2 linked regions of the Homo sapiens genome follow. The protein of the gene in region 2 interacts with the protein of the main gene of each other region in a pairwise test. Each region holds a gene or a part of one and is shown on either strand. Other genes may lie near its edges.

What was found. The genes of interacting proteins can lie anywhere in the genome.
Region 1: the proteins of GTPBP1 (region 2) and C7orf25 interact in binary tests that used the Homo sapiens proteins (3 or more experiments, as listed by UniProt).

Annotation. Positions count from the first base shown.
Region 1 is NC_000007.14:42,909,271-42,913,278, reverse strand, and holds C7orf25 (UPF0415 protein C7orf25), read left to right. Parts: upstream 1-1,208; 5' UTR 1,209-1,364; intron 1,365-1,435; exon of another isoform or gene 1,436-1,811; intron 1,812-2,085; exon of another isoform or gene 2,086-2,218; coding exon of another isoform or gene 2,219-2,239; intron 2,240-2,357; coding exon of another isoform or gene 2,358-2,378; coding exon 2,379-3,644; 3' UTR 3,645-4,006; downstream 4,007-4,008.
Region 2 is NC_000022.11:38,729,175-38,734,341, forward strand, and holds the end of GTPBP1 (GTP-binding protein 1), read left to right. Parts: intron 1-287; coding exon 288-488; intron 489-1,437; coding exon 1,438-1,530; 3' UTR 1,531-4,413; downstream 4,414-5,167. UniProt on the Homo sapiens protein: Promotes degradation of target mRNA species. Plays a role in the regulation of circadian mRNA stability. Binds GTP and has GTPase activity.

The DNA of each region.
Region 1 (4,008 bases), on a different chromosome or scaffold from region 2:
CTCTAGGGTCTTTTGTCTACTCATTTCTTCAGAGAAAAATAGGGTTATGGGGAGATAGTGGTAGGGAGCGGTAGAGGGGTGCCTGCATTATGGGAGGGGCAGAGAAGGGGGCTGCTAGCATTGCACTATTCAGTAGGAAAACATCATGGCACCTCTCATCCTTTGTTAGGCTTTGTGTCTGGAATCCCTCTGATGCCCTGTCTTTAGCATCTTAAACTAGTCTTCTGCCTGAACAATTTACTGCCCTCCCTTCTACCTTCAAGGCACCTGAAGCTTTCTGGGGTTCTGCTTTGTGAATCAGTGGCTAAATATCCCCTTCTACAAGCAGTTTGCTCAGTTCTCCTGACACCATCTGCAAAGAGGGTGCTTGGGTTCAGGTAACCTCCCTATGGCTCACTTATCTGTAAAGCATACTTAATATCTCTACCTTTTAGGTTGTTTAAAGGAGTGAACAATGTGTAAAACACTTAGAACAATGTCTGTCACGCTGTAAGGACTGAATAAGTTATTGCTCTTGTCCTCCAAAAATGTGTTGGTATAACCGGTCTGCAGTCATCTCTTCTCTTGTTCTTTTTGCCTTTGTTTGTTCCCTTTGTCATTGCTTTACTGTTATTTGGAGAAGGAGCATTGCTTTACTGTTAAGTTTGGAGAAGGAGCAGGATACACAGGATTAATTATAACTGGAAGTCCTCTTTAATATTTTAAATTAGCTTTACTTTCTTACAGCCCTAATCTTTCTGGGTGACTCTGGACACTCTACTACAGTAATATGAATATGGCAGCCCCTCGGAAGCCATGCAATCATTTCTTCTCTTCAGAAGGACAGCACACTTTCTTTGGAGGGCCCAGGACAATGCAGTGGAAAGTGCTTTGGCTTGGAGGCAGAAGTCCCAGAGGCAGTACTTCTCAGCTGTCACCTCTGACAAGCTTCTCCAGCGTTTCTTCTGTTAAAATGAGCCCCCAAAATGCCTACGACCCGGTTGCGATCGAGTGGCCGACGCCCCCAGTGGGAGTGAGGCCCAGCACGCGAGCTCGGTCCCTCTTCCTGGAGCCAGGTGGGTGCGCGCCTTCAGGCTCACCCGGCGGCGCAAGCGGGAGAAGCCAGGTGCCCTCAATAAACATGGCCGCCACGCCAGCGTCAACCCGGCTCGGGAGGCCGCGCTGCCGCTTGGGAATCGCAGGTTTGGCGTCACCCGGCCCGGAACCACGTGATGCAGGAGGTGCCCGAGGCGGCGGGGCTCGCGCGGGTGGAGCCGCCTCGGCGTTCGAGCGGGGTGGGGGCTGCCCGGTTGAGATTTCCCGGCGGGTCCCGGCCTCTGCGTGCACGCGCCTGCGTGCTCGCGCTCGCGGTTCTGGCGCTGCCGGTGAGGAGCCGGGGAGCGAGGCGGGGAGGCTGGGAGCGGGGCGCCTCTTCTGAGGCCAGAGGGGGCTGGGCAGGGCCGGCCCGGCGGGAAGGGGGTCGGCCGCGCGCTATCAGCGCCTGGTCCCTGAGCCGCGGCGCTGGCGGTGGGGGCTTTTCGGCCCCGGCCCCTCCTGGCAGGGCCCGGCTGTGCAGGTGGCCGGGCAGGGCCGAGGGCCCCGCAGCCCACCGAGAAGGCCCCGCCGGCCTCTGGCCCGCCCACCCGGCGACCTGCGCTGGGGCCGCTTGCACGGCCGCCGCGGGTTGCAGCCTTGGAGTTTAGTTTCATCTTCGGATTTTCCTTCAGAGTCGGAGTGGGAGTGGGACGCAAGTTGGTGGTCTTCTTCGGTCTTTTAAAATAGTCTGGGTTGACGTCAAATGCAGAAATGAGGCAGTGTTGATTTTTTTTGGCGTAAGTACCCCAAGCCTCGGGGGAAATCATGAGGCAGCCGGTTGAAGGAGACCAACTCGGGAAGGAGGAAAAGGTTAGGGAGGCTGAAGTGCTCAGTTTAGGACAGACACTTGCTTTGGACAGTTTGCTAACTAGCCAGTCTGTGTGTATTTTTGTTTTCGGCATTTTTGTCGCCTTTATTAAAATTTCTCAGCAGTTAAACAGGCCGCTGATAGACATAAGGGAATTATTTATATAGCAGATTGCCCAACTCTTGCATTGTATCCTAACCTAGGACCATGCTGTGTCCCCATGGCTTTCAAGCTGAAGAAATGAAGGTCTAAAGTGTGTCAGACGTACCTAAAGAAGAGTTCAAAAGTGTAGCTGCCATCCTTTCCTTAGCTATCAGAGGAAGCAGTCACTCCAGAATGAGACATACACAAGCCCGGGTTCATAGACTCACCCTCCATAAGCTGTGTTGCTAGATTGAAGTTTTTAATCACCAGTGAAGAATTGATTGTCATAATTTTAGGAGACTACTGAAGTTTGCCTTGTTTCTTTCCCTAGGAAAGGAATAATGCTGACAGCATGTCTGCACATTCCATGCTCTGTGAACGAATCGCCATAGCCAAGGAACTGATCAAGAGAGCAGAATCACTTTCTAGATCAAGAAAAGGTGGCATAGAAGGTGGTGCAAAGCTGTGCAGCAAATTGAAGGCAGAATTAAAATTCTTGCAGAAAGTAGAAGCTGGGAAAGTAGCTATTAAAGAGTCTCATTTACAGAGCACTAACCTAACACACCTGAGAGCCATTGTGGAATCAGCAGAAAACCTGGAAGAAGTTGTTAGTGTTCTTCATGTCTTTGGTTATACAGATACCTTAGGAGAAAAGCAAACCCTTGTGGTAGATGTAGTTGCAAATGGTGGTCATACTTGGGTGAAAGCCATTGGCCGGAAGGCTGAAGCTCTTCATAACATCTGGCTGGGCAGGGGCCAATATGGTGACAAAAGCATCATTGAGCAGGCTGAAGACTTCCTCCAGGCCAGTCACCAGCAGCCAGTGCAGTATAGCAACCCTCACATCATCTTTGCATTTTACAACAGTGTCTCCAGCCCCATGGCAGAGAAGCTGAAAGAAATGGGCATATCTGTGAGAGGAGACATAGTAGCAGTCAACGCTCTGTTAGATCACCCTGAAGAGCTTCAACCAAGTGAGAGTGAATCAGATGATGAGGGCCCTGAACTTTTGCAGGTGACCAGAGTTGACCGAGAAAATATACTAGCAAGTGTTGCGTTTCCAACAGAAATTAAGGTCGATGTGTGCAAAAGAGTAAATCTGGACATTACTACTTTAATCACATATGTATCTGCCCTCAGCTATGGAGGCTGCCACTTTATTTTCAAAGAGAAAGTGCTCACAGAACAAGCAGAGCAAGAGAGGAAAGAGCAGGTTCTACCTCAGCTGGAGGCCTTTATGAAGGACAAGGAGTTGTTTGCTTGTGAATCTGCTGTCAAGGACTTTCAGTCTATTTTAGATACCTTAGGAGGACCTGGGGAGAGAGAGAGGGCCACTGTGTTAATTAAGCGAATTAATGTGGTACCAGACCAGCCTTCTGAGCGTGCCTTGAGACTAGTGGCCAGTTCAAAAATTAATAGCCGCTCATTAACAATTTTTGGGACGGGAGACACCCTAAAAGCCATCACAATGACTGCTAATAGTGGTTTTGTCAGAGCTGCAAACAACCAGGGTGTTAAATTTAGTGTGTTTATCCATCAGCCCAGAGCACTTACTGAGAGTAAAGAGGCTCTAGCCACCCCCTTACCAAAAGACTACACAACTGACAGTGAACACTAAAGATACCCTTTAAATATTTTTGTGGAAGTAAGTTATTTATACCAAAGGCTGGGTCTTCCCATCTAAACTGGTGGGAAAAAAGGTCTATAGTAAAAGTAAAACTGAGAACTCTTAAACCAGTAGAGTTTCTTTGTCTCTCATCTAAAGTATATAACCTCCCAAAGTAGAAAAAGCACAAGAGAGAAGCTTATCTATCAAACTGTCTGCATTAGTGCAATTAAGAACCGAAATACGTCTATATAAAGCTTTCAGCTGTATTGTAATACTTTGATTCGATAGGGCTACAACTCCCCTACTGCTAACCACATTTCATGGAATATGGCTACATTGCATCTTGCATTAAATATCTGGAGAAAATTCAAGC
Region 2 (5,167 bases):
TAGTAGCTGCAGCAGAGAACAGGATGGAGCCTTTCTGGGCTGGGCAGAGGCAGGAAGTGAGGCATGAGTCCAGGGCCATAGCAGTCCTCAGCCACTGAGTGGGGATGAGAATGCCTCTTCATCCCCACTGCCTCCTGTCACAGCCTTCCTGCCATCTGCCTTGCCCTGAACTGGCAAGATCAAGGAATGAGGAGTCTGTGGGAGAAGGGGGCTGAGGGTGGGGGGTAGCCAAGCCAGTGCCACTGCCCCGCAGCTCCAGCCTCAGCCTCTCTCCATGGCTCCCACAGCTCCTCCAGACCACCAACAACTCCCCAATGAACTCCAAGCCGCAGCAGATTAAAATGCAGTCGACGAAAAAGGGCCCCCTGACGAAACGAGACGAGGGGGGCCCGTCTGGTGGGCCAGCAGTAGGAGCACCCCCACCTGGAGATGAAGCCTCCTCTGTAGGGGCAGGGCAACCAGCTGCGTCCAGCAATCTCCAGCCTCAGGTGAGCACGGGCCCCTCGCAGCTTCGGCATGGTGGTGGGGGCTGTGGCTTTTACTCTGATTCGGTGAGGGTGACATGTAGGCAAGCCTCAAACCTGGCTAGAGGGTCTCCTCCACAGCTCTGGCACTGAAGTGCTCCTAAGAATGAGGCATTTGTCTCTAGAAGCTATAAGGCAGTGCTTCCAAATCAGGGAATACAGCCCACCTGAAACCAGTTTAATTGGCCCTAACTAGCATTTGGTTTTAATGAAATAAAATAGAACAGAAAAATGTCGAAGCTTCCCTTTCATAGTAAGATTAAGTATTGCAAGTATTGCTGGTGTGAGTGTCCAAGTGATATATGTGTGCACTGCAGTCCAGCAGGTTTGAGAGACACTGCCTTAGAGGGTCCTCCTCTGTCCCCTCCCTGACGTGCACACATCCTGAAGGGGAGGTGGCTTTGGGATGTGCCAGTGCGCCTCTTACTCGGCATCTCCTGCCAGCTGTCTCCCACAGGCACTCTCTCCTGGCGTGATGAAGGCCTGGTGCCCCTTGCACCCCTCTCCCCAGCATCTTTCTCCATTGTCCCCTCATTGGAAAAGGAGGCTATGCCTGGATCTGTCTGTCCATTCTGTTATCTGTCTCCCATGGGTCTTTCCTCTGGTTCGTTCGCTTCCTTTCTCTCTCTCCTGCTCTGCTTTGTGCTTCTCTGAACGGCCGCTTCTCACACCCTCATCATGTGTGTCCTACCCACCCTGTAAGGAAGGCAGGGCAGGCACTGGCTCCATTTTAGAGACAGAGGGGAGGTGCTGCATGCAGAGTGACCCAGTAAATTCCTGGTCAGGCTAGGGTGAGGACCACGCAGCCTGCTCACGCATCTTCCGTCCCTGTCTCCCCGCTGCTCAGCACCTCTGCTCTCTGGCCCTGCTCCTGATGGGCCAGTGCTTCTCAAGCTCCTTCTCTCTCTTTCAGCCTAAGCCCAGCAGTGGAGGCCGGCGACGAGGGGGCCAGCGCCACAAGGTGAAGTCCCAGGGGGCCTGTGTGACTCCTGCCAGCGGCTGCTGAACCTTCCCCTGGCCCACCCTCACCACCCAAGGGGTCATCATCTCTGGCCACCACTCCACCAGATGGGCAGAGCAGCTATGACCGCCACCCAGCCCTCCCGCTCAGGCCACAGCCGGAGCCTCCGCATTGCCCCCACCCCCATTTTCCAGGGGGGTTGTAATTTATAAGCTGACGAAGGTAGCCAGACTTCCGGAGGACTGACCATCTCTCACTGTCCTCCCCACCTTCTTCCTCACTCACACATTTTTTGTACATCTGGGCCCTTAGTTTTTATTCTGTTTATTATATGTCTCTGTCTCTCTCTATTGTGTGTGTGTGTGTGTGTGTGTGTGTGTGTGTGTGTGTGGTGCAGGAGTGCCACCCCCAGGGCCCTGTCAACCTCTCTTTTCTCCTCCATGGCTGTCTGCCTGCGTATCTGTCTCTGAGAATCCTCGGGGCGGTCAGGGGATGTCAGGAGGGGAAGGAGCCGCCCTCCCTATCTTGCTGCTCCTCTTGGCACTCAGGGGCACCTTCCATGGAGCCAGACCGGGTGGAGGGGCTTCTGGGATTTGGTGTCTGCTGCTGCCAGAGCAGGAACCCCCAGTCTAGGACTTGGGCATTTTAACAGGGAGAAAGTAGTGGCTTCCCTTTTCTCTCTCTCCTCCTTTTTCCCTTTAAGCCCACAGATTCAGGTCATGCCAAAAGCTCTCTGGTTGTAACCTGGAGACATGTGGAGGGGAATGGCGATGGGATTATAGGACTCTCCCCATCTCGGGCCCTGACCCTGACCCTTGCCACCAACCCAAAGACAGCTGGTGGGTTTCCCCTTGGAGACAATCCTGCGTTTGCCTGGGCCGGCCCTGGCTGCCCTCAGCTTTCGCTGATCTGCCCGGCCTGGAGCCTCCCATCACCCCGCTTCTTGTTGGGCCTCAGGCACTGGTTACCAGAAGGGGGTCTGGGTCTGCTCAGGATCATGTTTTGTAGCACCTCCTGTTGGAGGGGTGGAGGGATGTTCCCCTGAGCCAGGCTGAGACTAGAACCCCATCTTCCCTGAGCCAGGCTGAGACTAGAACCCCATCTTCCCCACCACGCCACCCCTGTGGCTGCTACAGGAGCACAGTAGTGAAGGCCTGAGCTCCAGGTTTGAAAGACCCAACTGGAGCGTGGGGCGGGCAGGCAGGGGTTAGTGAAAGGACACTTCCAGGGTTAGGACAGAGCATTTAGCCTTCTGGAAGAACCCCTGCCTGGGGTGGGACTGTGCAGGCCAGAGAAGGTGGCATGGGCCTGAACCCACCTGGACTGACTTCTGCACTGAAGCCACAGATGGAGGGTAGGCTGGTGGGTGGGGGTGGTTCGTTCTCTAGCCGGGGCAGACACCCAGCTGGCTGGGTCCTTCCTCAGCCTTGCCTCCTCCTGTCCCCAACCCTTTCCTTTCCTCCTGCTTGCGGACTGCTGGTCCCCTCTCCTTCCCTCCTTCCAGCTGTTTCTAGTTACCACCTACCCCTGGCCGTGGACTGATCAGACCAGCATTCAAAATAAAAGTTTGTTCCAAGTTGACAGTGTGGTGCTCCCTGCCCAGCCCCTCCAGGTGGAGGTGCTGCCACGGGAACGCAGTTGCTCTGCCTGCCCTGGGGCCCCTGGCGACAGCTGGGAGCAGGGCAGTGCTGTGAGGAGCCCAGCTTTCCCAGTCAGGCAGGCATGGCTTCCGTGTTCAGGCTCCCTCACCAGCTGGTGACACGGGACAAGCTTACAAACCTTCTCTGAACCTCAGTTTTCTCATTTACAAGAGGCAAAGCCATCCATCACCTTGTGTGGATTCAGAGAATGTGAGGCCCTGGGGTGTCCTACACAAGGGAAAGGCTTGCTCAGTGAGCGGTCTGCACACCGTTAGCCACCCTGCCACCTCTGTGCCCTGGGCAGGCTCCAAAGGAAAGCTCTGGCTGGGACTGCCAGGAGTCTCACACGCTCCTGTTGACATTCCCAGCAGCCGCCCCTGAGGTCGATGTTTGTTCTGTTTTTCTTTTTCTTTTTTGAGACGGAGTCTCGCTGTGTTGCCAGGCTGGAGTGCAGTGGTGTGATCTCTGCTCACTGCAACCTCCGCCTGCCAGTTTCAAGTGATTCTCTGCCTCAGCCTTCTGAGTAGCTGGGACTACAGGTGCACGCCACCACGCCCAGCTAACTTTTTGTATTTTAGTAGAGACAGGGTTTCGCCATGTCGGCCAGGGTGGTCTTGATCTCCTGACCTCATGATCCACCCGCCTCAGCCTCCCAAAGTGCTGGGATTACAGGTATGAGCCACCGCACCGGGCCTGTTCTATTTTTCTAGTTAAGGGAACTGAAGCTCAGAGAGGTGTCACCAGCAGGTGTTCATTCCCATGCCAGCCTTGCCCCCCGGCTTTTCCCAGGCAGGCTCCTGCGTGCCCACTGGCTCCAGCCTGGTCCTCTGTCTCTTGGCTGCTTCACTCCTGCTCTTTGTCCCGACTCTGGCCCTGCTTACAGGGGCCACTACCTGCTGGTGCCTCCATAACAAGCGTCTGGCGTTGAGACCCCTGGCATGGCAGGGGCTTTGGGGTCTGGTTTCCACAAGGCTTAGCCATGGCAGAACCTCGTTTTATTTTAACTCTTTGCCCCTACAAACAAACAGCAGTACTTGCCAGAACCATTCTTGGGATTCAGGAGCTCGGGCGACTGCCTTGGCCTCTGGCCGCACCCAGGAGGGTGGGGTTGGATCTGTGTAGTTGCCAGGCCCACACCTGCCAGCAGGGGGCTGACTGGATCCATGCTTTACTGTGTTTAATGGGGGTAACAGGGGTCCCTACAGCCCTCCCAGCTAAACATTTGGAACAAAACACCAGCCCTTTTGTAGTGGATGCAGAATAAAATTGTTAATCCAATCACCTCCAATGGCAAGGCCTGACCCTTCTGTGTGTGCAGCAGGTGTTTGTGGCGTCTTTCCCAGGAGTAAGGCCTGTGATGGTGGGATGGGGATGGCCAGACCCCTGACTCCACAGTCAGGACTGTTCTGGCTTATCAGCCACCCTGGCACAGAGAAGGTCACAGGGATGAATATGCCACGCACAGGGGCAGCACAGGTTTAGTTGGGTTGGGGGAAGTACCATGGAGCCGGCAGTGTGAGGGCTGTGCTGTGAGGGCCCAGTAGGATTTGAATGTACAGATGGGCAGAGGGCATGTGCCCAGCCCAGGCTCTGGACTCTTGCCACAGTGTGTGGCAACTTCCAGGGGCTTGTTTATTGGTGCTGCGTGGGGATGTCTCCTTTGTTTAGATGGCGTCAGAGGCAGAGCAGGTGTCAGTGAAGGGGAGTGAGCACAGGACCAGCTGTCTCCCAAGAGGCTGAGGAGCTGGCCCAAGGCTTTGGGGGCTGGATTTGTGCCTCACCCAGCTCCTGCCTTGTGGCTGTCTCCACAGTCCTCCCTACTGACTGGCTTTCTGCCTTTGTTTTCTCAGCCATGATGAGGAGCAGCCCTGGGCCAGGTGCCACGGTCAGTATGAGAGGCTCCAGGATCAGGCTAGAGAACCACGCGAACCAGGTCTGGGGAGCTATCTGTGGGAAAGGTCAGGGCCTGTTTTTCTCCTAAGCTGCTGGCTGTTCAAGGGACCTACCTCCTTGTCCCTTCCCAGTCACAGGTCCAAGGGGCA